2 separate regions of the Homo sapiens genome follow, and region 2 is linked to region 1. A link means that fine-mapping ties the variant in region 1 to the expression of a gene that starts in the linked region. Tissue or cell type: liver. Region 1 holds a variant in brackets; the other region holds the start of a gene. All regions are shown on one strand. Distances are from middle to middle.

Region 1 (2,754 bases):
GTGAGCTGTGATTGTGCCACTACACTCCAGCCTGGGTGACAGAGCGAGACTGTGGCTCATGCGTATAATCCCAGCACCTTGGGAGGCCGAGGCAGGCAGACCACCTGAGGTCAGGAGTTCAAGACCAGCCTGGCCAACGTGGTGAAACCCCGACGGAGGCTCTGTCCACAGAGCTGTCTGGCAGGTCCTTGCAACTGTACAGCGCAGCCAGCCCAGCCTCCAGGCCTAGTGCCTGGGTTAGTCATGGCCCCTCCATCACAGGCAACGCGTGGCTCTACCGGGAAGGTGCTCAGGTGGAGGAATTTCACACAAGGTGACGGGGGCCAGGGCATGCTTCCGGCAGGAAGTCAGCCCTGGAGATCTCAATACTCACATGTGTGTCTCAGTCACACTGTGTGTTTGTGTGTGCGGAACGTAGAGAGCTGATCACCTCAAGGGACATCCCAGCCCATAGCCCCCCACCGCACACACACCCCCAACGCACACACACAAACATGTTCCCAATGCAAAGCATGCAGTGTTGCCCAATGCGCTCATCCCGGAGGCAGGTGTCCGCTTCGACACCGTGTGGTGACACATGCACGACGGGGGCAGATCCCCAGCACCCGCCTTCTCATTGTGAGCCGCCTTTGTTTTGCATTCAGACACGTGGAGCCCCGGGAACCAAGCTGCAGGGCCAGTGCCTTCCAGCCTTCCAGGCCCGAAGCCTCCAGTCCCTCAGGAGCTCCTCAGGCCTTCAGGAGCCCCGGCAAGCACCCTCCGGCTCCCAAGCCCTTCCGGGCCTGCCAGCGGCCTGCTGTAGAGTGGGGTGGGAAGCCGTTGGGAGGGAGGAGCAGAGGAGTTCTGGTCTCCCCTAGCCGGGCCTCCTGCCGGGACACCTGCCAGCTGCTCCCCACCCCCGGCCTTGGCTCCTGGCCTGGCAGCCCCCGATTCCTCCCCTTCACACACTCAGGACTGCAAAGAAGGCCGGGGGAGGCCCCACTAAAGCACAGCCTCCAAGGTACACCTGGAGACTCGGGGACCTTGGGGGCCCTCAATCCCTCTGGGCCTCAGTTTCCCCCAGAAAGACAGGCCCAGAATCAAGAGGGATCTATGACAATGGGGGTGGGATTAGGCGTGTGTGTGCTTCCTGCGCATCCTGGCAGGCTGTGGGCGTTCTTGGCAGGCATCCACCAGTCCCCAGGCTCTGGAGGAGGAGGCCGGATGGGGGTGGGAGGCTGGGAGCCCC[G/T]GGGGAATGAGCTGCACCGCCCACACCGCCATAGGAGCGGCCTCCACACACCCAGCCCAGAGAGGCTGGACCCACAGGGCAGTGGCCTCAGAGGAGATGCTGGGCTCCCTTGCTGGTGTTGGGGAGGGTCGTCTTGGGTGGTCTTCCCCCTACCTTTCGCCCAAAGGTGCTCTGGGACAGACCCCTGACCACCTCCAAAGACTTGGGCCTCAGTCTCCATAGAACGAGGGGTTTCTGGACCACCTGCCAGCTGCCTGGGCAGGGCTGAGCACCAGCACTTTAGGTCCATTGAACTTTGGGGGCTGCCCAGTCCACCCCACTGCTTTCACCTCTGTCCTGGGTTACAAGAGGGGCTTCAAACCGCAGACCCTACAACCCAAGACCTCAAAACCCAGATCCTGGAATCCTAGACTCCAGAACCCCCAGACAGGAACCCGGACCAAGAATGTTCCCCAGAGCTGCTCAGGGGCCACGTAGGGCCTTTCTGTCCTTCTGTGACAAAGACACTTGTCACTCGCGCTCCAGGGATGGGGCATGGAGTGCCTGCCTTCAGAATCTGAAAGGCCTTCTCCAGAAACTCCCGGTCTCCACCCCCGGCCCGCCAAGGGGCGGGTGCATCCCACCTGCTGTGGGCTGAACCTAGTCCTGGTGGCTCTTATCAGTGCCCTGAGAGGTCCCCGGGAGGGAGCCGCATCCCACCAATGGATGAGGACACAGGAGCCCCATGGAGCTCACCCCCAGCCTGGCCTTCCCAGAACAGAAAGATGGCGGCCCCCAGGAGGCCCTCCTGGCCCTGGCCCGGGTCGGCTGAGGGCAGGGCCTGGTGACAGTTTCCGGTGTGTCCTCCGCAACAGCCTTCTCAGGCTCTCACCCTCACCCCACCCCAGAGTCTCTGTACACCCCTGCTTGGACAGCTGGGGGGCACATAGAGCATGACTCCGGCCCACCAGGGCCAGGGTGGGGGCTGCACCCCAAATGCCTTTGGCCTGAGTCCTCTAGCGGTTGGGAGGAGCCACCCTGACAGGGGCATCAGGTGATGTCCTAATTGCATCCAGTTAGGATCCAGTAGGCCTCAGTGGGCCCCAATAGCAGCTGGGGCCAGGCCTGGAGGAGGGGATCTGAGCCCTGGGCCGGCCGGGCAGCTACGCAGGACTCTGCGGGGCCGGGCATGGCCTGGCGTTTCACACGACCCAGTCCCATCCCTGGGCCTCAGTCTTCTGTGTGTGGAACAGGAACACCCCCTTGAGGGCTGTGGTGAGGACCCGATGATACTGGCGAAGTGCCCTGGGCCCAGCTGGCCCTCCTGTCTTGGTCCCGGGGCATGGTGGGAAGGGAGCTGGGGGGCAGAGTGTGGCAGGGTCATCCCCCTCCTGACTTCCTGGCGTGGCATTGAGTTGGGAAAGGTTGCAAAGGGGTGAGCTCTCCTGAACTGGTGGCCCAGGCAGCTGGGGAGGGGCAGCACAGCGCAGAGTGCCCCTGCTGGGTGCTGGGTGGGGCACCAGTGTCCAGAACGCTCAACACAGCCC
Region 2 (2,627 bases), 380 kb before region 1:
CCCCACCGGGGCCACACGGTCTCAGGGGTCCAGGCCCATCACCGACCCCGCCGGCGCTCCCAGGCACCTTGTCCGCCGGGAACTCAACGGCGCCGCCGGCGCACGGGGTCCGGTTCTGGCTCCAGTTGGCTGCGACGTCGAAGTCCGTGTTGGGGACCCAGAGTTTGGAGACCGCCTGGGTCAGTGCTGGGGAGGAGGCGACTGAGTGCCCGGGATGCTCTCCGGGATGCTCCCTTCTCAGGGAAGGCCACCCACCCAGAGAAGTGCGGAAGGTCCGCGCGGATCACCCGGGACGCATAGGAACCCCATCCCCGGGGGCCCGGACCCAGACCCTGGTCCCTCCCGGCCAGACTGTGGGCGCCCTGCCCGGGCGCTCTCCAACGGACTTCTACTGATACCTGCAGAGCCCGCTCAAACGCGCCCTGCAGGACGCCTGCCTAGATAGCCTCCCGGCACTGCCCCCAGTTTGCCTGGCGCTGGAGCAGAGGACAGCGTTGTTAAGGACAGTGACAACTGGGGCATGGAGGAGGATGGGGCAGCACAGACCTCTTCTCGGCCTTGGAATCAGGAAGGCTTCCCGGAGGAGTCCTACCTGGGCCGGGAAGAGCTGCGACAGAGCGCAACCCGGTATGAGAAGTAAGAAGGGGCTGGGGGCGGCAGGACCAGGTCAGGCCGGCCCTGAATGTGGTGGGTGGGGTTGTCCTGAGGGAGCCGCGAGGGGTTTAGGGAAGGGGGCGCCAGGGACACGCGCCGGCCTGGTGTGAAGGCGGAGGAGGGCTCAGTGCTCCCTTGGGGACCGGGAAGCTGAGGCGGTCTGCCGAGCCCCGCAGGCGCACACTCGCTGCTCTCGGCAGGTTCTGGGGACCGCGCCCATTTCGCAGACGGAAAAACCGCGAGGGCAGGAGCCGCCGGAGGCCGGGGCTGGCCGAGGTTCCCGGAGCCCCTCCTCTCCTCTCCCGCACCGCCCGATGCACTGGCCGCGCACTTCCGGGCTGCGCACTCGCCAGACGAGGGAGGCAGGGCCGAGTTTCACGCCCCCAACCCTCCAAAGCCCTCCCTGCCCACTCCTCGGAAGATCTTCACCCTCCAGGCCTAGAGCGACCTCGGCCCTGGGTCCTGACAGACCGCTACCGTCCGGGCCCGCACCGGTGTGGTCCCGGCTCACCGCAGAGCTGCAGCCACAGCAGGACCCGGCCCAGGACGCCCATCTCGCCTCGGCTCCTTGCACCCCACCAGGAGACTTTGCCCCACTGGACCCACGTGACCAGGCAGGTCGGGTGGGGGCACCAGGGTCGGTTACACATTTACCTCCAGACCCGCCCAGGGCCGACTCTTCAGGCCCCTGGGAGGCACCTTCTCAGCCTCCCCTTACCCGCCCCTGCAGGGCCTGAACACCTTAGGTTCTCAGGAAGAAGGGCAAAGAAGAAGGGCTTGGCGAGACTGACCTACCCTGTAAAATGGGTGTCTTGCCGGGAGGGGGAATAAACGACCTTTGAATTCACCCCTTTCTCTGTCCTGTGTGCTGCTAGGGCTGAGCTAGTCTGCTCACCATTGGAACTGGGTGTCCACTTCTCCACGCAGTGCCCCTGTCCCATGGGCTGTGGGTGGTGGTTGGATGATAGAAGGAAGATCCTGGATGGAACATGGTATGTGGATGGTATAGGAGGGTGGATTGTGGATGATGGTGGAGAGTAGTGGATGGTGAGTAGGGGACAGCTGATGGACAGCAACATTGATGGTGCATGGTGTACGGCATATGGACGCATGGCAGATGAATGGTAAATGGTTGACGGGGTGGATGGTGAGTGATAGAGGGTGGATGGGTGATGAATGGATGGATGAGGATGGTGAGTGAAAAATGAATGAATGGCCGGGCGTGGTGGCTCATGCCTGTAATCCCAGCACTTTGGGAGGGTGAGGCAGGCGGATCGCGAGGTCAGGAGATCAAGACCATCCTGGCTAACGCGGTGAAACCCCGTCTATACTAAAAATATACAAAAAAATTAACCGGGCATGGTAGAAGGCGCCTGTAGTCCCAGCTACTTGGGGGGCTGAGGCAGAACGGCGTGAACCCAGGAGGTGGAGCTTGCAGTGAGCCACGATCGTGCGCTGCACTCCAGCCTGAGCGACAGAGCGAGACTCCGTCTCAAAAAAAAAAAAAAAAAAAGGAAAAGGAATGGATGGTAATCAGGGAGTGGTGGATGGATAATGGCATAAATGGATACATGGCCGACAGGTAGATCATAAAGAGTGGGTGTTGGCGGGGCACGGTGGCTCACGCCTGTAACCGCAGCACTTTGGGAGGCCAAGGCGGGCAGATCACCTGAGGTCGGGAGTTCGAGACCAGCCTGACCAACATGGAGAAACCCCATCTCTACTAAAAATACAAAATTAGATAGGCATGGTGGCACATGCCTGTAATCCCAGCTACTTGGGAGGCTAAGGCAGGAGAATCGTTTGAACCTGGAAGGCGGAGGTTGTGGTGATCGGAGATCACGCCACTGTGCTCCAGCCTGGGCAACAAGAGTGAAACCCCATCTCAAAAAAAAAAAAGTGGGTGTTAAATGGTGGATGTTTGGTGAGTGATGAATGCTGAATGGATGGATGGTGGATGGTGAATAGATAGA

The links. PIP is the estimated chance that this variant, and not a neighbour inherited with it, causes the effect.
Region 2: AMN starts here. The variant in region 1 is fine-mapped to the expression of AMN in liver (GTEx, PIP 0.98).

What each region holds. Positions count from the first base shown.
Region 1 is chr14:102,538,545-102,541,298 of GRCh38, reverse strand. It overlaps MIR4309 (microRNA 4309), which reads right to left and starts at 1,655; the gene lies at 1,573-1,655. The variant G/T (reference allele first, on the strand shown) is at 1,229.
Region 2 is chr14:102,921,270-102,923,896 of GRCh38, reverse strand. AMN (amnion associated transmembrane protein) reads right to left here and starts at 1,234. Exons shown (of 12, transcript NM_030943.4): 1 at 1,166-1,234; 2 at 68-186. The coding sequence starts at 1,208. RefSeq lists a silencer at 811-1,010.